Linked DNA regions of Homo sapiens: region 2 is linked to region 1. The links come from fine-mapping of genetic effects on gene expression. A gene starts in region 1. The other region holds a variant in brackets. All regions are shown on one strand. Distances are between the middles of the regions. Region 1 holds the start of FBXL15 (F-box and leucine rich repeat protein 15). Region 2 overlaps GBF1 (golgi brefeldin A resistant guanine nucleotide exchange factor 1).

Region 1 (11,515 bases):
AGAAGAGAGAATCCATGAAAGGCTTCCCCTTCTATCTGGGCCCCAGAGCCAGAAAAGCCCCTTTGTGCAGAGGGTGGGTGGCCTGTTCTGGGTGGGGGAAGGGCTGTGCTTGGTCCTGAGGCTGAGCCTTGAGGGGCTGGACAATGGGGCCCCTTGTGATTGGACTTGGGGGCCAAGGGGCTCCCTCAGTGATGGGATTCCTGAGCCAGGAGGCATGTGACCCCAAGACCTTGTCAGAAGGTCTGGGACTGCTGCTGGGGAATGGGGTAGGGGGGTGGGGAGAGGTAGGGGGGTGGGGAGAGGTGGGGGGGCGCCTCCTCTAGAGGCTGTCTCCAGACACAGTGCCCTGTCCTGTCTCAGGCTGAAGGAGGTGAGATGGGCGGAGGAGGGGGCATGGTTCTACTTGGGGGAACAGAGAGGGCAGCATCAACAGATGGTTCCATAGCAGGCCAGGAGGGAGGAGCCACTGCCCCCAGGCCCAGTGGGTGGGGGCAGGCAGAAGAAGGCCTGGCCATCCTGTCTGTGTCCCTTCAGAAGAGAGAGCATGGAGCTGGAGAGGATCGTCAGTGCAGCCCTCCTTGCCTTTGTCCAGACACACCTCCCGGAGGCCGACCTCAGGTAGAGACGGGTCCCCCGGAAGGCTCATGTCAGTGCTGGAGCTGGAGCTGCCGGGCAGTACTATGGGTACTGGCTGATGGAAAGACAGCAGGAGGGCTGACTAGGATTTGCTGAGAGGCCTTACCTCTCATCCTGTCCCTGTCACCTTTGTTGGGCAGATGGGAAACCATAGCTCTGAGGGAGGGGGTTATACTCTCTGGCCTTAAAGATAAAGGTCTAGCTCATAGACCCCATGAAGCTGAGGGCTGGAGTCTCAGGATAGGTGGGGGTGCTGGAGGCATCCAGTGTCCTACCCAGGGCTTGTCCTGTTCCCTTCCTGCAGTGGCTTGGATGAGGTCATCTTCTCCTATGTGCTTGGGGTCCTGGAGGACCTGGGCCCCTCGGGCCCATCAGAGGAGAACTTCGATATGGAGGCTTTCACTGAGATGATGGAGGCCTATGTGCCTGGCTTCGCCCACATCCCCAGGTAGGTTCTGGCTAGGGCCAGGAGGAGGAAGGGGCTGGCTGATTATGGGGTGGGCAGAGTCATCCTCTCACTGCCCTCATCTTTTCAGGGGCACAATAGGGGACATGATGCAGAAGCTCTCAGGGCAGCTGAGCGATGCCAGGAACAAAGGTGAGTCTGGGGCTCTGGGCACCTGAGTGATTCATAATCCCGCTCCCCCAACTGCCTGCTCCCCAGAGCCTTGGCAAACCTGATGCTCTCTTTGCCTCTTTAAGAGAACCTGCAACCGCAGAGCTCTGGTGTCCAAGGTCAGGTGCCCATCTCCCCAGAGCCCCTGCAGCGGCCCGAAATGCTCAAAGAAGAGACTAGGTCTTCGGCTGCTGCTGCTGCAGACACCCAAGATGAGGTACTGGTAGAGGAGGGTACCGATGAGGGACCCAGGGGGCTGGAAAGGGGGGAGTATTGCCTCTTGTTAACGTTTGTACCCTTAGGCAACTGGCGCTGAGGAGGAGCTTCTGCCAGGGGTGGATGTACTCCTGGAGGTGTTCCCTACCTGTTCGGTGGAGCAGGCCCAGTGGGTGCTGGCCAAAGCTCGGGGGGACTTGGAAGAAGCTGTGCAGATGCTGGTAGAGGGAAAGGAAGAGGGGCCTGCAGCCTGGGAGGGCCCCAACCAGGTATCTTTTCCCAGCACCCTCTACCATGTAGCCTCAGCTACATTCCACCTTGGTGTTAAGCCCCAACCCCTACCTATCCCCATCTGTTTCCCCTGCTGGTGCCCTTGGGCCTAGACCAGGCCTCCCCTCTCTGCAGGACCTGCCCAGACGCCTCAGAGGCCCCCAAAAGGATGAGCTGAAGTCCTTCATCCTGCAGAAGTGAGTCTGGGCTGGGCTGGGCTGGGCCCTAGAGGGTCTTCCCAGGGTGACAGGAGCTTCACCCAGCCAGTTTTTGACAGGTACATGATGGTGGATAGCGCAGAGGATCAGAAGATTCACCGGCCCATGGCTCCCAAGGAGGTGAGAGAGTTAAGGGTTGCTGGGGATGCGGAATGGGTGGGACTGGCTCCTGGCTTCTGCCACTCACTGCTGATTGCCTGACAGGCCCCCAAGAAGCTGATCCGATACATCGACAACCAGGTAGTGAGCACCAAAGGGGAGCGATTCAAAGATGTGCGGAACCCTGAGGCCGAGGAGATGAAGGCCACATACATCAACCTCAAGCCAGCCAGAAAGTACCGCTTCCATTGAGGCACTCGCCGGACTCTGCCCGAGCCTTCTAGGCTCAGATCCCAGAGGGATGCAGGAGCCCTATACCCCTACACAGGGGCCCCCTAACTCCTGTCCCCCTTCTCTACTCCTTTGCTCCATAGTGTTAACCTACTCTCGGAGCTGCCTCCATGGGCACAGTAAAGGTGGCCCAAGGAAGGTGTGAGTGCATTCTGGTCATTTCTGCCTCAGGACTGGGATACTATGCCTGTCTGACCTTTCCTCCCCAACCTCGAATCCCCTATCTTCAACAGGGCAGCACCAGGCAAGAGGGGGTAAAAAGCTCTTTATTTGAAGCTCCAGGGTGGGGCAGGGCACTGGCCTCTCACCAGAGGTCCTCACAGTTCAGTTTCCCTACAGCTCAGTGTCAGGCCCCAGCCACACAGTCCAGCTGTGCTCCGATTGGCAGGCGGGTCAGACCTGCAGGTTGACAAAAGGTGCGAAGCCCGCCATATCCTGCAGCAGCACCAGGGCCTGGTGCAGCGGCGGCTCCACGTCGATGTCCACGCCGCGCTTCCGCAAGCGGCTCAGGCTGGACTCCGCCACATGGTGGCAGTGCCGCACCCGCAGCGAACGCAGCACGGGGCAGTACTCGGCCAATGTCCTGAGGGAGGAGCAGGGTGAGGCTAGGGACATGAGGCCACCACACCTTTGGTGGGGTAAGGTGGAGGCCCGGGCTCACTCAGCCTCGGACTGGCTCCGGCAAAATCCCGGTCTCCCTCCAGCTCGGGGCAGGGGCATACTTTTTCCGTCCCTACACAAGGGAGGCGCCTGGATTGGCTTCCAGTGAGCTGGAGACTTCCTGTCTCATTTAAGGGGGGAACCTGGCCCTCAGCTCCGCCTAGGATTGCAAGATCTCCCCCTTGTTGAAGAAAAGCCAGAAGTCGACTTTCTATGTGAAATCTCCCAATGTGTAAACATTGGTTGAAAAAAGTTTTTAAACTATGGGCTCTCTGGCCTAGGCAATCCTAGAGGCCCTTTCTGTTCAGAATGGGGGTGCTGTGGTTTGCAGGAAGATTCAGAACCCTCAGTCCGGCCTTTTAACAACTACAGCCCGCCCCATACCAGCAGAGGCTAAGTGACTGCCCTCCTCCCGCCCTATCAGGCCCAGGCACCTGACACCGTCGCTTCCGACGCGGAGGCAGCCGGTGAGGTCAAGGTGGTGGAGTTCTGGGCAGTTCCGAGCCAACTCTTGAACCGCGGCGTCCCCCACGTTGGCGTTGACGGCCAGAGAGAGGCTGCGGAGACCAGCGCCGCGCCTCTGCGCCAGGTACACGATGGCCTCGTCCTTGAGCTGGCGGCAGGCGGTGAGATCCAGCTCCTCCAGGGCCGGGCAGCGATCAGCGAGGCCGCGCAGCGCCAGCCCGTCCACCCAGTCACAGTGCGCGAGCGACAGGCGCTGCAGGCGTGGGCAGCCCTCGGCCAAAGCCCCAAGCGCCCGGCGACTCAGTTGCCCGCAGCCGCCCAACGCCACACTCCGCAGCTGCGGATTCCGCGCCAGCACCGGCACCAGGTCCTCGTCTGACAGCCATTCGTGACACGGCGCCAGTGCCAGCTCCTGCAGCCCCTCGGCATCCCGCAGCAGCCGGGCCAATGCGGCCCGCGGGATCTGCGGACCCACCTGCGGGCGGGGAGGCACCCCAACTCTCAGCCCGTCCCGCACTCCTCAGCCGCCTATGCACCCCTGACCTGAGTTCTTTTCTGGCAGCCTCCTGCTCTCCCAGGAGAGACCCCACTTTCCCTCTGAGTCGCTACCGAGTATTTGCCCTTTGGTGCGTGGATCCCTTCCGGGCAGCCCCGGCGGCCCAAGGGGGTCCAGAAGGGCATACTGCGGGGCTGGGGGCTGGGCTAGAGGCGGGGCGGTACCCAGGCAGGGGCGGGGCTTCAGCCCCCGGCTCACCTGCGCGGCATCGAAGCGACGCAGCCCGGCCAGGTGAAGCTGCACCAGCGACCGGAAGGCCCGGCTAACGCGCTGCAGCCGGAGCAGCTGGCGCAGCGGGACCCGGTTCAGGACGTGTGGGAGCAGCACGTCTTCCCAGGGCAGGTCCAGGAACCTGCGAGTAAAGGGGCGTTGGCACTGGCGTCCCGGGGCCACTATTACCTGCGAGTCCGCCTCCGTTATGTTCCTGCGCCCCAGCTCCCAAGAGCGGCCCCCAGACCCAGCCCCGGCTCGGCTCCCCTCCCTCAGGTTCCTCTTCCCTCTCGGCCCCTCCGGTGCTCGGTACCTGACGGCTCCGGGCTCTTGCTCCCCTCCGGACGGCTCCATCGGTGGCTCCATCGGCTGTCTATTGCGCGTGCGCAGTAAGATTTTCTCGCTTTGGCCTTGGAGTGGCCGCACCAAACCCGCCTCCTTGGCCTGTAGAGACAGACCTATTTAATCGAGTGCCGTCTCACCGAGGATCCGATCTGAAAGCTTTTCGGGTGGACCCCGAAACGGAGGCGGAACAGACCGGTGGTGTAACATTAGGCCTCGCCTTCTCGGCTACAGGGCTTGAGGCCTGAAGCTGGAGAATGCGGTGGGCATCAGAGACTGGCTTCTGTCGTCCTCTTGAGCCAGTAGCCGCCTCTGAGCGAAGTGGTGGTGGGAGGAGCAGGCAAGGCCAAACGCGGAGGGGGCGGAGCCAGGACTCTTAGGTTACCGGCCTCTCCTCTGCCCTCTGGTCGCGTTTAGCGACTTTGAAAAACGGGGAGAAACTATCCAGGCTCTTACTGTCTGCCACGTAGCAGGTGTTCAATAAGTAATTGTTGAAATAATGAATGAATTGGCGAGGCTATAATGTTTCCCTCATCAAGTAAACCTGCTCAAACCTCCCATTCCTGATTAATTATGAAGAGCTATCCAGCCTCTTCCACTTCGTAACAGTTTGGGCCGCGTTTCCGCCGGGGGAGAGAGATGTAGGGGGCGCGAAGAAAGACTATATTTCCAACTGGGTCCCTTTCATTTCCTCCAAAGGTCCAGAGTCCTAAGAAGAATGAGAGCTCAGCTCAGCCCGCCAGTGGTAGTGCTTCTCGGCTGGCCTTGGGTTTAGTTGTAGGGTCTGGGGCTGGGTCCGCCCTGGGACAATGACGCCCCAGACCTCTGGACTCAGCTTCAGGGCTGCCTCTCACCGCGTCCCCAGGTCCCAGTCCCAGGATCCGCTTCGGGGAACCCCAGGAGTAGTGCCTTCCCCCATCATCCACGGGATGGGTGTGGGGGGATGTGAAGGACGCGAGAGCCACTGCACCGCTGACGGTCTGGCGCTCCGGTGCAACCGCTTCAGCTGGCTCATCACAACGAAAACCACTTCTCATCTGTTATCTCGTCAAGGCTTCGGGCACCTCTGAAAGGTGGGCAGGTCTATGCTATCAGTCCATTTTAAAGATGGGGAAACCGAGGCCCTGGAGAGGAAGCCCCTTGTCCAGAATCAAGCCAGACGGGAATAGAGAACCCAGACATCTGGTTTTCCCAGAATTCCTTCCACGTTTCCCCACCCCGCAAGGCAGCGAGAAGGGAGAAGCTAGCAGCGGGGAGAGACAAGAAAGGGGTCAAGTTAGGTGAGGGCTTGCTATCTCTTCTTCCTCAGCCTGCTTAGGGAGGGGGTAGCTGGGAGGACAGACCCCTGCAAAGATAGAGCCACGTGAGCGCGCACCACCTCCGGCCGCGCGCCTCGTCCCCCTCCCCTCTTTGTTCGCGCCTCTGCGCCTGCGCAGTGCGACAAATCTGGCGCTGTCCCCTTCAGCACCACGCGGAGTCCGCGCCGCCCCTCCCCGCGGTGAGCCCCGCGCGCCCCCGCCTCGCACGTCCTCGCGCCCCCTGACTGCCCGAACAGACCCCTTCTTCCTTCCGAGGTCACCATCTGCCCGCCCTGGCCCTCCCAAAGAGAGTAGTTGCCATAGTAACTCCAGCGGCTCTTTCTTAAAATAGCAGGGCCCCCTTCTACCCTGGCCAAGGGCACAAGGGTTGCCGGTCCCCCACGTCTTCCGGTCCCTAGTTCATCCCGTCTAACCTCTTACCCCTGGGCAGGCGTGACGACACCTAACTCAGGCAGCAAGGAAGTTCTTCCTGAAGTCTGATTTAACATCCCCCTGCTGCATCCTGGGAGGGTGGTCAGGGTTGGATCTCCTGGGTCCGAGACTCAAAACCCCTGGCGGGTTCAAGACGGTGTTCCCTAGATCTCCTTTCCATAGTTGATGGTCTCCTGGATTTAGGGGGCGGGTCCAGTCTACACCCATACCGTGTGCTTGGCGCGGCCGCGTGCTCGTGGGGGCGGGAGCGCGTGTGGCATGTAACAGGTCATGTGGCAGCCTCCTAGGGACACGCGTGGGGTCTGGAGCGGGACACGCGTGTGCAGCCGGGCCTTACGTGTGGCTCAAGGGGCGGTGGGCGAGAGAGACGTGGACACAAGTGGGGTGGGGCACGTGAGGGTCTGGGGAATAGAACCAGGGGTTCCATGCGCCCTCCTCCTTGTCTGGGGCGGGTCTTAGGTTGGCGGGAGAGCCCAGCGGGGACCTAGCGACAAGGGGGGCTGGCAGCCTCCGGGGCTCTGGGCCCTGGGAGAGGGCGGGGGGTGGGGGGGATTAGCGTTGCCTGAGCGGCGCGTAGGGGGTAGGGGGAGGGACTGAGAGGCGGGCGGGCCTGGAGCAAACGGGAGCCGCGCTGCCTTCACAGCTCAGCTGGGCCCAGCCTCTCCTCTGTCTCTCCTCGGTCTCAGCTCTGGGCGAGCAGCGGTGAGTACTGAGGTGGCATTGAGTTGGGGCTGCACCGGGTATGCGCTGGGACCCCGTTGAGCTTCCGGAACCTGCCTGGCAGGGTTGCTACTCCTGACCTCTGCCCCTCCCCTGCATTGCCACCAGAGGCCCCTTTACCTGGTTATGGTCTCTCCTGGGCGGGATCTGTCTTACCCCTGGGGAGAGAGGGAGAGGAGAGGAATATGGGTGCAGATTCCCCTCAAGAGACCCCAGTAGGTGGGGGGGAGGGGACGGTGTGTGTCCCTGCTTGAGTGTGTACATCTGTATGTGTACATCTGTATGTGTATGTGACTGTGAGCAGTAGGTCTCTGTGAGTGTCTGATACACCTGGACCTCTGTGTGCACTGGAGAATGACAGCTTGTGTATATATTTGGGTACCTCTTTGTGTGTTCCTGTTTGATGATGGTGTGTGTGTAAAACAAGCATGTGCCTTTTCATTACACACATACTTGTTATGACTGTGAGAGTGCATGAGGGTGTGTCTTTGAGCAGTGTGTGTGTGTGTGTGTCTGTGTGTGTGCCAGAGGGTGTTGCCTATGAATGTGTTTAACTGTGTACTGACATATTTGTCCTTATGTATGTGTGTGCGTGTGTGTGTGTGTGTGTGTGTGTGTGTGTTTGTGTGTGTGTAGGTGCCTGTCTGTACCTGTATGAAGAAAAGAATGTCCCTGGCCGGGTGCGGTGGCTCACGCCTGTAATCCCAACACTTTGGGAGGCCAAAGTGGGTGGATCCCCTGAGGTCAGGAGTTTGAAACTAGCCTGGACAACATGGTGAAACTCCATCTCTACTAAAAATACAAAAATTAGCCAGGCATAGTGCTGAGCGCCTGTAATCCAAGCTATTCAGGAGTCTGAGGCAGGAGAATCACTTGAACTTGGGAGGCGGAGGTTGCAGTGAGCTGAGATAGCGCCATTCCACTCCAGCCTGGGCAGCAGGGGCGAAACTCCATCTCAAAAAAAAAAAAAAAAAAGAAGAATGTCCCTTTCCCACTCAGTATGTATATATTGGGGGTAGGAGCCTCTGCTCAGGCTTTTCTCCCCACTTCCATGCTGTGCCTCTCAGCCCTTCAGCATCCCTATATAACACCTGTTCCTCTTCCCTCTCCTTCCAGGAGGCCTGAGTTTCCCTTCCCTGAGTGAGGGGCCTCCATAAGAGAGACTATAGGGGTCACAGGGCTGTATGATGGTGACAGCTGGCTGACACCCCTTTTCCAGAGGGTGGGGTACCAACTTCCCCTATTCTAGAAGTAGCTCCAAAGTGCCATAAGAACTCCGGGCTCACTCAACTTTGAAGTTGCTTCCTCTCTCCTCCCAGGGTGATGCTCAGGGCCTCAGGCAGAAGGAAAGGAGCCAGGGGCCCACTGGGTGTATAAGTCTTTTCTCGTCAGGCCTCTATGGAAGTAGTCCCCAGGCGTGGGATCAATGATCCCATATTACCAGGGTGTGCTAGGTCCCTGATACTCAGAGGCCCTAGCCAACTTTCCCTTCCCTATCTCTGCTGTCCTATCCATCTAACTCCTTGGCAGTTCACCCCATGCTCCCCTTCCTCTCTTACAGGCCTGTCTGAAGAGCATGCAGCCCCCTTACTCCCCGCCTGGCCTCGCCATCCCTGCCCCCCCAGCCTGACCCCCGGCCCCAGCATGGCCCAGGGTGCCATGCGCTTCTGCTCGGAAGGCGACTGTGCCATCTCCCCACCACGATGCCCACGCCGCTGGCTCCCCGAAGGCCCGGTGCCCCAGAGCCCCCCAGCCAGCATGTATGGCAGCACAGGCTCCTTGCTACGGCGAGTGGCAGGTCCAGGTCCTCGAGGCCGGGAACTGGGACGTGTGACAGCACCCTGTACACCTCTGCGTGGCCCCCCCTCACCCCGTGTTGCTCCCTCACCCTGGGCACCCTCTTCACCCACTGGGCAGCCCCCACCCGGGGCCCAGAGCTCTGTGGTCATCTTCCGCTTTGTGGAGAAGGCCAGTGTGAGGCCACTGAATGGGCTACCTGCTCCAGGGGGCTTGAGTCGGAGCTGGGATCTGGGTGGGGTTTCTCCTCCCAGGCCCACCCCAGCCCTTGGGCCTGGCTCCAACCGGAAGTTACGGCTGGAAGCATCCACATCAGACCCACTCCCCGCCAGAGGAGGCTCGGCCCTACCTGGCAGCCGGAACCTTGTACATGGGCCGCCAGCCCCACCCCAGGTTGGAGCAGATGGCCTTTACTCCTCTCTCCCCAATGGGCTGGGGGGCCCCCCTGAGCGCCTGGCCACACTCTTCGGAGGACCTGCTGACACTGGATTCCTGAACCAGGTATGCAACTTCCCCTGGGCTCCCTGGGCCCCCAGTGAAGGGGCAAGGCTCAGCCTCCTGTCAGACATGGGCTTGTCTGCTGTTCACTCTGAATCCTTTAATCTGTTCTAAATCTGCCTCTCTCTTGCCCTCTGTGTTTGTCTCTGTGTCTCTGAACCTCCATCTCTGTCGATGCATGTTTTAATTTCTGTTTCTGTCCCATATTCTTGTGTCCTTGTATGTCTGGCTTTATCTCTGGGTGCCTGTGTCTCCCTCGTTGGCTCAGGGGGATACCTGGTCCTCCCCCCGGGAAGTCTCCTCTCATGCCCAGAGAATCGCTAGAGCCAAATGGGAATTCTTCTATGGCTCCTTGGACCCCCCCAGCTCAGGTAAGGCCTGGGACTGAGGCAGGGAGAACAGGGCAGGGCCTTCCCCACAGCAGCTGAGGCTCAGTAGGGAGCCCTCCTTCAAACTTCCCCCAATCCTTGGAATTGGCTCTTGAGTCAGCCAATGTCTCCCCAGGCCTCAATCTTTCCATCTGCGCTATGATGGGAGGCTGGAGGATAGGACTGGGCAGGGCACCTGGAGGAAGCTGAGTAATGGAGGGAGGGGACAGAAGGATATTGAGGGGCATTCCATGGAGTAGAAAAGAGGCTCAGCAGGGCTCAGTGGCCCCAGTATTTTGGGAGGCCAAGGCAGGAGGACTGCTCAAAGCCAGGAGTCCAAGACCAGCCTGGACAACAAGCAAGTCTCTACCAAAAATTTAATTAGCTGGATGTAGTGGTGTGCACCTATAGTCCTAGCTACTGGGGAGGTTGGGTGGGAGGATCCCTTGAGTCCAGGCAGTCAAGGCTGCAGTGAGTTATGATTGCACCACTGCACTTCAGCCTCAGTGACACAGTGAGACCCTGTCTCAAAATAAATAAATAAATAAATAAAAAAGACAGAAAAAGGCTGGTCTTCCCCCAGCTCCTCAAAGCCATTTGACAAGAACTTGATTTAAAATGAGCTCCACTGGCACCAGGAACAAGCTAAGTATGTAGCAGGAGGAATGGTGGCTAGACAGTGAAAGAACTTCCTGTCAATATGAGGCAGTGGGCAGAGATCCTAGAGCAGAATTAGGACAGGGAGCTGACGTGGATAACCTCCTGACCTGGATGCCTATGCACACTACAGGTGCTAAGCCCCCAGAGCAGGCCCCCCCATCTCCACCTGGGGTGGGCTCAAGGCAGGGCTCTGGGGTGGCTGTGGGGCGAGCAGCCAAGTACTCCGAGACAGACCTGGACACGGTGCCCCTGAGGTGCTACCGCGAGACTGACATCGATGAGGTGCTGGCTGAGCGGGAGGAGGCCGACTCGGCCATCGAAAGTCAGCCCAGCTCTGAGGGCCCACCAGGCACTGCCTACCCACCTGCCCCACGGCCCGGCCCACTCCCTGGCCCTCATCCCAGCCTCGGCAGTGGCAATGAGGATGAGGACGACGATGAGGCAGGTGGGGAAGAAGATGTGGACGACGAGGTGTTTGAGGCCTCTGAAGGGGCCCGGTGAGTGGGGAAGTGGGAGGGGGAAGTGGGAGAGGGAAGCGGCTTGCTCCTTCGCACTGGCCCACAGGCAGAGCCGGGCTCAAAGGGCCTGGGATAGAGATGGGTGTGGGGCTGGCGGGGCAGTGTGTATAGCAGGAGATTCTAGACAGAGGCCTGAGGCTTGGCAGAACACTGGGGATGTGGGGAGCAAAGAGGCCAGGGGTTCTAGCAGAACAGGGGGCAGGGTGAGAGGCCAGAGGCCACAGTCAAGCCCAGGAACACAGGAGCATGAGTCTGGATCCTGGATCCTGGTGGGAGAGTGGGGAGTGTGGGGACATTCCTTTCCGTCTCACACCCCAGTGTCGCTTGGAGCCTCATCTTCTCCTAAGATGTTGCTAGAAATAGAAATGGGATGGCAGAAGGGAAGCGGATCACGGAAAAGGAGGAGAAAGGGAGATTAGCAGGGAGGGAGGGGATGGGGTGCTGGGGACTGGTAGGGCTGGTGTGCCCCAGGGGGCACTGAATAGCTTGGCGCCCTACCCTAGAGGCTCTTTTTTGTTAGTGGGCTGGAGCCAGTGAAAAGGGGATGATAATCCCCTTAGCAGAGTCAGTGTGAGAGTTCAGTGAAATCCTGCCCCAGCCCTGTGATCTGGGCCCCTAATCAGA
Region 2 (11,515 bases), 170 kb after region 1:
AAAAACAATATTTCTGGCCAGACATGGTGGCTCATGCCTATAATCCTAGCACTTTGGGAGGACGAGGCGGGAGGATTGCTTGAGCCCAGGAATTTAAGACCAGCCTGGGCAGCATATCGAGACACTCTCTCTCGCTCTCTCCTAAGTATATAGTCTTCCCTTTGTTCTTTTTAATCTACTCAATAAAAATTTAACTTGAATTTAAAGATTCAAGTTAAAGAAAAGAATAAAGGTTGTTGGAAGCATAGTGTTGGTTTAGAACCACAGTTGCAATGTCAGCGTAAAGGCTGCATCCAGACAAGGTGAAGTGGCTCACACCTGCAATCCCAGCACTTTGGGAATCCAAGGCAGGAGAATCAGTTCAGCCCAGGAGTTGAGACCAGCCTGGGCAAACAGTGAGACCCAGTCTCTACCAAAAAAACAAAACTAAAAAATTAGCCAGGCATGGTGGCATACACCTGTAGTTCTAGTTACTGGGGAGGCTGAGGCGGGAGGATCACTTGAGCTCAGGAGTTCGAGGCTGCAGTGAGCTATGACCCCACAACTGCACTCCAGCCTGGGTCACAGAGCAAGACACTATCTCTAAAAATATATAAATATAAATATAAACAAATGACTGCATCCAATCTGCCCAGTCAGCTCCAGAAAACTGGACAGTGACAGTGACAAGACCTTTGAAAAGTTCTGAAAACTCATATTAACTGACAGCAAGAAAGCATTAATATGATATGTAAATATAAAATAAAAGGTCTGTGCTAATATACCCAAACTTATAACCATAATTATTCCTAGAGAAGGTGCTGTGAAAACAGGGTGCAATCAGAGGATACTTGAGCCTTATCTGTAATCGTTTTGTCTTTTGGGGTTTTTTTGAGACAAGGTCTCACTCTGTCACCCAGGTTGGAGTCCTGTGGCACTGTCATGCCTCACTGCAGACTTGAACTCTTGGGCTCAAGCAATCCTCCTGCCTTAGCCTCCTGAGTAGCAGGGACTTCAGGCGCACACCACCAACCCAACTAATTTTTGTACTTTTTGTAGAGATGGGGTCTCACTTTGTTGCCCAGGCTGGATCTGTAATATTTTAACTTTTTACAAGAAGGTCGGGCACTGTGGCTCATGCCTGTAATCCCAGCACTTCAGGAGTGTCAAGGCAGGTAGATAACCTGAGCTCGAGACCAACCTGGCCAACATGGTGAAACCCATCTCCACTCAAAATACAAAAATTGGGCAGGTGTGGTGGAGGGCGCCTGTAATCCCAGCTACTCGAGTGGCTGAGGCAGAAGAATCGCTGGAACCTGGGAGGCAGAGGTTAAAGTGAGCCGAGATCATGCCACTGTACTCCATCCAGCCTGGGCAACAGAGCCAGACTCCATCCCAAAAAAAAAAAAATTTTTTTTTTTTACAAAGAGAATGTATTACTGTACTATCAATATAATTAAACATTAATAATGATAAGAGGTATATAATTTATGTCCTTGAGGCATTTATACAGTTTAGTGGAATAGATACAAAAACAGACACAGCCAGAGATAATAGAGAAAGAAATGTACCTAGCAAGTAGCTCAATTTGCATATTTTGCATAAGATGAGGCCCCCCAAGAAAGTGAAAAGCATGAAAACCACCATGATAAAGGAAAAAGAAACTGGTACAAATTTTGTCCAGGGGCCATGCGCAGTGGCTCACACCTGTAATCCCTAACACTTTGGAAGGCTGAGGTGGGCAGATCATTTGAGCCCAGGAGTTCGAGACCAGCCTTGGCAACATGGCGAACCCTGTCTCTATAAAAAATACAAAAATTAGCCAGGTGTGGTGGTGCACACCTGTAGTCCCAGTTGCCAGGGAGGCTGCGGTGGGAGGATTGCTTGAGGCCGGTAGATTGAGGCTGCGGTGAACCGCGTTCGTGCCACTGCACTCAAGCCTGGGCAACAGAGCGAGACTCTGTCTTAAAATAATAATAATAATGTGTCCATGCCCATGACAGCTCCCCAGTCCACAAGGGAATCCAACACAAGATTTATATTAATGACAATTTAAAAAACTAGGTTAATCTCAGAAGACTATCTGCTTTCCAAATGCTCTAGGAACACAACAACGTTCTCTTCTGAGAAGTGTCAATGATATGAATGTACAACCACGCTCTCTTCTGAGGAGGAGGAGAACTTAGAAATAGAAGAAAGATATATTCAAAAATGATTTAAAGTATCAGAAGAGAAAAGATTAAATCTTTCCTGGTATTTCCCTTTCCTTAAATTATGTAGGCAAGATGAATATGCTCTAGGTCTCTGGAAGGACTTGTAAGAAAATGCTAAGAGGTTACGGCCTCCAGGGAAAGAAACTGGATGACTATGGAACTGAGTGGTGGAGGAGTGAAAGGAAGACTAACTTTTCTCTGTATATTCTTTTTTACCTTTTGAATTTTGTGTCACAAACATATATTACCTATTAACTACTTTTAAATTTTAATCAGCTGATTGACTAAAAATGAATAAGCCCTTTAGAAAAGAAGTAACCACTTTCTAAGACAGCAAAGGTCTAAGCAAAAAATCATTGTAAAAAAGAAACATCTAGGGCTGGGCGCAGTGGTTCACGCCTATAATCCCAGCACTCTGGGAGGCTGAGGTGGGCAGATCACCTGAGGTTGGGAGTTCAAGACCAGCCTGGCCAACATGGTGAAACGCCACCTCAACTAAAAATACAAAAATTAGCCAGGTGTGGTGACACACACCTGTAATCCCAGCTGCTTGGGAGGCTGAGGCAGGAGAATCACTTGAACCCAGGAGGTGGAGGTTACAGTGAGCCGAGATCGCGCCACTGCATTCCAACCTGGGCAACAGAGTGAGACTCTGTCTCAAAAAAAAAGAAACATCTAGGGAATGAAGAGGAATTATTTTCAAGTACTATGCAGAGCTGCCTAATCTCCTTCTAGGTCTCTGAGTATGTCCCCTCACTCAGGGAATCTCCAAACAGTTGTGCCCTTCAGCTTCAGATGGGAAACTGATGAACCACTTGCTGCCTGGTAGCCAATGGCCAAGAAATCCCTTGTCACAAGGTCATAAAGGCCTGCAGAAACCTCATAAAAGTATAGTAGAAACGAACTTAAGATTTATCTTGTGTCAGAAATAACAAGAGAAATACATTCATTATGTACCCACACAAATGAAAAATTAATAGAAAAAAATAAATAAGAGAGGGAACAACTAAATAAATACCAACTAACACCCTTAGCCAGATAAGCCACTGGCCCAGAGACTCTGAGTAACATGTACCCTTGAAACCACTGTCCATTTAAAGCTGGGTCTAGAACATTCCCCTAGTGCTTTGTGGCATCCCAGTTACCTCAACAGGATCCAAAGAGGAGTCACTGTATCACTTGGCAACTCTGTCTATATCCAACAAAAGCAGGAGAAAAAGAAACAATAAATTGTATTCTTATTTAATGGAATACCAAAAATATATCTCAGGTTATTTAAATATGAAAAGCAAAACTTGAAATCTCTTAGAAGCTAATATATGAGAATATTTTCTTTTTGATTTTTTTTTAGAGATAGGGTCTTGCCATGTTGCCCAGGCTGGACTCAAACTCCTAGGCTCAAGCAATCCTTCCACAACAGCCTCTTGGGTAGCTGGGACAACAGGTGTGTGCCACAGCACCTGGCTACAGGAGAGTATTTTTATAAACTCAGCATAAGGGAGAAGTACCTAAACAAGAAACAAAAAGCAAAACCTCTTTAAAAAATTGGTGAATTCAACCATGTTAAAATTAAAAATGCCTGTTCAAAAGACAACATAAAAAAGAGGGAAAAGATAAGGCACAAACCAGAAGAAAATATTTGAGGCACATATAACTAATATAAAGGAGTAATATCCAGAGTATACAATAACTGCTACAAAACTATAAGAACTAGACATATAACCCCTCCCCAAAATTGGCAACAGAGATGAATAGGTGTTTCACAGAATAGGAAACATAAACAGCAAATAAATATATGAAAAGATTATTAGCTTCATTAATAATCAGGAAAATTACAAAATAAGATTATAATGATATACCACTTTACATTCCTGAAATAGCAAAACACTTTAAATCTGATAATACTTAAAAGGCCAGGTGCTCACGCCTATAATCCAGCATTTTAGGAGGCCGATGCAGGAGGATCACTTGAGCCAAGGAGTTTGAGAACAGCCTGGGCATCATAGCAAAACTCCATCTCTACAAAAAATTTAAAAATTAGTAGGGCATGGTGGCATGTGCCTGTAGTCCCAGCTACTTGAGAGGCTGAAGTGGGAGGATCACTTGAGCCTAGGAGGTCAAGGCTGCAGTGAGCCACGATCACACCACTGTACTCCAGCCTGGACAACAGAGTAAGACCCTGTCTCAAAAAAAAAATTGTTTTTAAGTTGGTAAAAAATGCAGACCAAGTGGCTGGTATGTATCTAAATTAATATGAATTTGAATAACAATTTGGCATTATCTTACAAAGCTAAAGCACTTCATATCCTATATTTCAGCAATTCCACTTCTAGGACTATACCCCAGAGAAGCTCACACAAAAAAATTGAGAATAGTGGCAAGCGGCAGGGAGTGTGGGGGAACTAACAGGGAAGGGCATACATACATGCAGCCTCAGTTTTGGTGATGTTATTTTTCAAGCTGGGTGGCAGCCATTGGTGCCCCATATAAGCTACACATATTCTTTGTCTAAAATAGCCCCTCGGCTGGGGGCAGTGGCTCATGCTTGTAATCCCAGCACTTTGGGAGGCCAAAGCAGGCAGATCAACTGAGGTCAGGAGTTTGAGACCAGCCTGGCCAGCATGGTGAAACCCCCACTCTACTAAAAATACAAAAATTAGCTGGGCATGATGGCAGGGGCCTGTAATCCCAGCTACTCAGGAGGCTGAGGCAGGAGGATTGCTTGAACCCAGGAGGTGGAGGTTGCAGTAAGCCAAGATTGCATCACTGGTCTCCAGCCTGGGCAGCAGAGCAAGACACCGGCTCAAAAAATAATAATAATAAAATAAAATAAAAGACCCTAAAAAGTTAAAAAGTTCCTTTTTTTTTTTTGAAACAGGGTCTCATTCTGTCGCCCAGGCTGGAGTGCAGTGGTACAATCTTGACTCACTGCAATATCTGCTTCCCAGGCTCAAGCGATCCTCCCACCTCAGCCTCCCAAGTAGCTGGAACTACAGGCATGAGTCACCATGCCTGGCTAATTTTTTTGTATTTTTTGTAGAGACAACATTTTGCCATGTTGCCCAGGCTGGTCTCAAACTCCAGAGCTCAAAGCAATCTGCCTGCCTTGGCCTCCCAAAATGCTGGGATTATAGGTGTGGGCCACCACGCCACATCATTCCTACTTTTTAAAGTCATGGTCTTTGCTGCCTCTTTGCCTTTGCATATGAAGCTCCCTTTCTATTCTGAATGTTTTTTCTCACTCTTGTCCACCTGATAAACCCTTACTCATTCCATCCAAAAGTCAATGAGGGAGTCAGAATATCACAGTGGTTCTAAGAACAATCTTAAAACCACTTATTTATTTATTTATTTATTTTTCCACTTTTTTTTTTTTTTTGAGACAGCGTTTCCCCCTTGTTGCCCAGGCTGGAGTGCAATGGCACAATCTCGGCTCACCGTAACCTCTGCCTCCCAGGTTTAAGCGATTCTCCTGCCTCAACCTCCCAGCAGCTGGGATTACATTCATGCGCCACCATGCCGGGCCAATTTTGTATTTTTAGTAGAGATGAGGTTTCTCCGTGTTGGTCAGGCTGGTCTCAAACTCCCGGCCTCAGGTGATCTGCCCACCTCGGCCTCCCAAAGTGCTGGGATTACAGGTGTGAGCCACTGCGCCCAGCCCTTTTTTCCACTTTTTTAGCAGAGTATTTTTAGTAGAGTTGGGGTTTCACCATGTTGGCCAGGCTGGTCTCAAACTCCTGGTCTCAAACTCCTGACCTCAAGTGATCTGCCTGCCTCGGCCTCTCAAAGTGCTGGGATTATAGGCATGAACTACCATGCCCGGCCACCCACAGCACTTTGTAGTTATCTCTAAACATATCTTGGCTGGGGACAGTGGCTGATGTCTGTGATCCCAGCACTTTGGGAGGCCAAGGAGGGAGCATCAGTTGAGCCTAGAAGTTCAAGACCAGCTTAGGCAACATGGCGAGACCCTGTCTCTACAAAACATAAAGAAAAATTGGCCAGGTGTGGTGGCGCACACCTGTTGTCCCAGCTACTTGGGAGGCTAAGGCAGGAGGATCACTTGAGCCCAGGAGTTCCAGGTTGCCTTGCGGTATGATCGTGCCACTGTACTCCAGCCTGGGTGACAGAGTGAGACTCTGCCTCAAATAAATAAA[T/C]GAAAATAAAAATAAACACATCTTATACTAATTTATAATTATTTATTTAGTGTATCACCACCATGGGACTATCAGGCTCTATCTCAGGGGGAAAGACCATGATTTATTTACCCTTTTATCTCCAAAGCCTGACACATAGTAAGAAAAATGATCAATAAATACTAGATGAACAAATGAAATAACATCAAGACTGACTCTTCAAGAGTGGTACAGCACACATCCACCTCATGAGAAAAATGACTTCATAGAAGACAATAACTCTGAGCCACACTGGCAAACCTTTTTTTGATAATATATATTTGCTTCTCTACCAGAAGTTACAAACCTTCCATACAGGTAAAAAGAACCCACATTTACCTACCAGCCATATCATAATGCTTCTTTTTTCACGTCTATCTTCCTGACATCTCCTTAAGTGTTATTTGCACATTCACATTTTTGTGAAATATATAATTTTTAATGTAACTGTCAATTCTTCATATATGCCTTATTTTCTTTGGCTCTAAATAGCTGTTTTTAGTACACTAGTGTTTAAGTGGTTTTTTTTTTTTTCTTAATCACTTTTATGGGGTTTGGTTTTGTGTTTGTTTGGTTGTTTGTTTTGAGACAGAGTTTCGCTCTTGTCGTCTAGGCTGGAGTGCAGTGGCGCAATCTCGGCTCACTGCAACCTCCACCTCCAGGGTTCAAGTGATTCTCCTGCCTCAGCCTCCCGAGTAGCTGGGATTACAGGCGCCCACAACCACGCCTAGCTAATTTTTATATTTTTAGTAGAGACAGCGTTTCACCATGTTGGCCAGGCTGGCCTTTAACTCCTGACCTCAGGTGATCTGCCTCCCTTGACTTCCCAAAGTGCTGGCATTACAGGCATGAGCTACCACGCCCGGCCTCTTAATCACTTTTAAACATTTCCTTGGCCAGGTGCAGTAGCTCTCATCTTTAATCCCAGCACTTTAGGAGGCCAAAGCAGGAGGAATGGTTGAGCTCAGGAGTCAGAGACCAGCCTAGGCAACATAAATTAAAAAAAAAAAAAAAAAAATTAGTGGGACATAGTGATACATGCCTGTAGTTCCAGCCACTAGGGAGCCTAAGGTAGGAGGATCAGTTGAGCCAAAAAAAATCAAGGCTGCAATGGGCTATGATGACACCACTGGACTCTGGGCAACATAGTAAAATCCTGTGTCTACAAAAAACACAAAAATCAGGCAGGCGTGGTGGCACGCACCTATAGTCCCAGCTACTCAGGAGGCTGAGATGGGAGGATCACTTCAGCCTGAGAGGCAAAGGTTGCAGTGAGCCGAGATCTCACACCACTGCATTCCAGCTTGGGTGGCAGAGAGAGACTCTGTCTCAAAAAAAAATTATTCTTATCCAACTAGCAAATAAATTCTCCAAAGGCAAAAGCGCAATTTTGTTTTTCTTTTTCATGATGCCTTTGTGTCTAATACAGAGCTGGGCAAACCAAGAAAAACTGATGGACTTTCTGAAAAGGTAGATGGTAGTAGGGAGCTAAAGGACCAGCAATAGGCCCTTCTAAGGTTTATGTTCACTCAATACCTTTAAAAGCCAGAGAAGGCTGGGCGCATTGGCTCACACCTATAATCCCAGCACTTTGGGAGGCCGAGGTGGGCGGATCACGAAGTCAAGAGTTCAAGACCAGCCTGGCCAATATGGTGAAACCACATCTCTATTAAAAATACAAAAATTAGCTGGGTGTGGTGGCGTGCACCTGTAGTCCCAGCTACTTGGGAGGCTAAGGCAGGAGAATTGCTTGAACCCAGGAGGCGGAGGTTGCAGTGAGCCAAGATCACACCACTGCACTCCAGCCTGGGCAACAGAGCAAGACTCCATCAGAGAAAAAAAAAAAAAAAGCCAGAGAAACACTAAAGATGCAGAGCTTTTAACATTTCCAGAGCTGGCCTAGGAACACATCATAGTTCTGTGCTTTATTGAGAATAACCAAAGTTACTAAACTAGGAAACAACTTACTGAGCTCAAGAAATTTACTTAAAGGGTGGAAGTAAAAGAAGGTTAAACTGGGAAAAAAGCTGGTGCCCTGACAATGCATCACTGGAAAATCCTCCCAGACCTGATAATCGGGTGACCAGGGTACCTCAGCTCTAGCATGCCATCTCCTCCCCCTGTGGAGATTCTGAGAGTATCTCAAAAACCGTTTACAAGGTAAGCTACTAATATGTCCAAAGCTGTCCCTTCTGCCAGCTTGGAGATGAAAAATAAAACAAACCTTCTCTATCTCACTCCATCTTTTAGCCACTCAGGGCACCCAAGGTACAAAGGTGACAGCTGGCAGAGTAGGACAAAGAAAAAAAGTCTATGTGATTATGTATAGAGAACTGCAGTGATTAAGTCTCATAAGGCCTGCCCATTTTGTTTATTGAGGGTCATCATCCAGTAACCATTGGGCAGAATCCAGTCCACAGACATATTTTCTTTGGCCTGAAAAAGGCTTAAAAATACTTTTAACTAGTTTCCAACAATTAGAAAACACAATGATCTAAATTTCCAGTTTCTCCTGAAAAATAGAAAGAGTGGTCATTCTGTGCCTGCACTCTAAAACAGTAACAATCTGCTGAAAAAGGAGCAGTTGGCTCTTCTAAATAAAGGAATGGGTTGAGCATGGTGGTTCATTCCTAAAATCCCAGCACTTTGGGAGGCAAAAGTGGGAGGACTGCTTGAGTCTAGGAGTTCGAAACCAGCCTGAGCAATACAGTGAGACCTTGTCTCTACAAAATATTAAAAAATTAGCTGGGCATGATGGCGCACATCTGTGTTCCCCGCTACTTGGGAGGCTGAGGTAGGAAGATCACTTGAGCCCAGAGGTCAAGGCTGCAGTGAGCTGTGATCGTTCCTCTGCACTCCAGCCGGGGTGACAGAGCAAGACCCTGTCTCAATAAAAAGAAATTAAAATTAAAGACAAAAAAAAAATAAAGGCATGGGTTGTCCAGTACACAACAGTCCCCACTAATCCTAATACATTCCCATGGGACTCAATTAACTCATTTACATTACCTGCCTGGCATTTAGGCACATGAGCTCGTAACCCCTGGTTTATATGATTGGCAAACCATTACTTTGCCATCATACTTCCATGATCATTTACACTACTATTGCATCTATCGTAATTTCCACTACTACTAGAACAAATAATCACTTCTATGATCACTTCTATTATTATTGGGGTTCCAAATCAGCACACTGCTTTATTATATTTTCATTTAGTTAAACAACTGCAGTTGAACATACTGAAATATTAAAAAAAAAAAAGAGTAACAGCTAAACAGCAGCTCATTATATTTACATAGCTCTTCTAGCCTGAGGATAAAATGTCAACAAAAACATACACCCTTAAATTCAATCCCACCATTAACCCAACAACAGAATCATTCTAATCAGTCACACAGAGCCACAGGGATATAGTGTGTGATCAATCAATGAGAAGTGTCATACAAAGATTAGGGTGATCCTTGCAGTGAGTACTCTATAAATAGAGTCTCCTCAAAAGCAAGAGCTGTGTCTTCTTCCTCTTTAGCTGCCCACAGCAGCCAGTCTAAGTACCCTATCAATGAGGTTATTATGTGAAAGTGGCAGTCATCCTGACTTCTGGAAAAGAGGGAAATAAAATAGTAGTGTAACTTTGAGAACTCTGAGCTGAAACTGGGATTGGTGCCCAGCTACTGAGGAGATATGTCTATAGCCTGAGTTCCCACTGTGCCAATGAGCATCACTGTCAAGACTGGAACATACTGTCTACAAACACCATTAAAAAGAAGCTCAAATACAAGCTTGGGACTTGTATTTGAAGGATGAATTTTCTGATTTGTGGGTAGGAGTGGGAATTATTCCTATCTAGAAAATTATTCCTATCTAGAAATGACATTTAGGATTAAAAAAAAGAAAGAGAGAGAAAGAGAAAACGTTTTGATGCCTCTATAGTCACCCTTAGGCTCAACTGAGGATGACTGGATCCTGGATTGATCACACTGCCTACCCAGAGACTAGATTGCCTGTTATGCAAAGCATATCAACTCAACAGGGCAATGGCCCAAGTGAGCAAGGCAGGATCATCAAACCTGGGTACCTCCTGAGGTATGTCATTTCATTTGCTGCGTTCAACTACTTTCTTGGGGGCGGGGAGAGGGGAGGAATTCTACAACTTAGATCAGCAAGTTAAAATGCAAATAGTTTCCTGTACCATTTCCATCTAAATCAACACAGGTGAAGCATAAATAATGCCATCCCCCTTCTCCCAACACACACAAAAATTTCAATTTCATAAGGACGAAGGTAGGAAGGGAAAAGGGAAATTATGAAATTTCAATTTCATAAGGACAAAGGTAGGAAAAATTGAGTTAGTCATTCCAAGATCCTAAATAGTTTTCTCTTCTGACACTATGAGGTTTTGATCCTCCTTGTTACTACCTCATCATGCAAAAGTGCAAAGTGTTCCTGACTGCCAGGGCCAAAAGCAGGCCACAAGTCCTGATCACATACTGAAACTAATCCCAGATAGAGATAACGTTTATTGAGTGCCCACTACATACCAAAAGGTATTAGGTTGATCCTGCTCTTAACCTACTACATGCTCTAGCTAGGCCACTGCACATACATGCTACTACTTTTAAGAAGTGCATTAACTGAGCAGTCCCAAAGCAGACCTTTCCATTTGTATCCTCCACAGGGCCTAGAGTGCCTTTTATACCTGAATTAATGCACAAGTTTCCACATTGTGCATTAAAAAACACCATCTACACTATTCCTTATTTCTAAAAGCATTCGTTACCCTTGGTGGACTTTTATAGCTTTACAACACAGCAGTTTATCAAAGGTCATCACAGTGCCATAAACTACTCTCTAGGGTTATGTTCCATCATTCACTCTGGGGCTCTGACCCTACAATTGGCTGAAAATCTCTCATGACTCTTTTTGCCCACTAAACATAATAGGCCGACAATACCAAACTTTGCCAGTATTCAAATATCTCTCTCTGCTGTCAGTCAAATATGTCATAATAGAGTGGTTTCCTTATGATTAAGCCTCATCTCCTTAGTGAAGATCTGAGAGAAAAATGTCAACAAAAACATACACTACAAAAGAATGCCTGTGAAAGATTGTATAAAGGAACAAACAGGCCCAGAAGATAAGTATAGT

What was found.
Region 2: its variant is fine-mapped to the expression of FBXL15 in whole blood (INTERVAL, PIP 0.94).

Annotation. Positions count from the first base shown.
Region 1 is chr10:102,414,218-102,425,732 of GRCh38, reverse strand. FBXL15 (F-box and leucine rich repeat protein 15) reads right to left here and starts at 4,897. Exons shown (of 4, transcript NM_024326.4): 1 at 4,551-4,897; 2 at 4,226-4,379; 3 at 3,441-3,946; 4 at 2,597-2,929. The coding sequence starts at 4,603. The coding sequence ends at 2,740. It overlaps PSD (pleckstrin and Sec7 domain containing), which reads left to right and starts at 6,948. Exons shown (of 17, transcript NM_002779.5): 1 at 6,948-7,032; 2 at 8,612-9,348; 3 at 9,614-9,716; 4 at 10,504-10,870. The coding sequence starts at 8,695. CUEDC2 (CUE domain containing 2) reads left to right here. Exons shown (of 9, transcript NM_024040.3): 2 at 535-618; 3 at 941-1,084; 4 at 1,173-1,234; 5 at 1,339-1,469; 6 at 1,555-1,737; 7 at 1,874-1,935; 8 at 2,016-2,076; 9 at 2,161-2,484. The coding sequence starts at 545. The coding sequence ends at 2,307. RefSeq lists enhancers at 2,590-2,649, 2,740-2,789, 2,980-3,039, 3,270-3,599, 4,510-4,979 and a silencer at 4,100-4,269.
Region 2 is chr10:102,246,395-102,257,909 of GRCh38, reverse strand. The region is part of intron 1 of GBF1 (golgi brefeldin A resistant guanine nucleotide exchange factor 1); the gene reads right to left. Among named protein-coding and RNA genes, the nearest start is that of GBF1, 6.6 kb to the right of the region's middle. The variant T/C (reference allele first, on the strand shown) is at 6,350.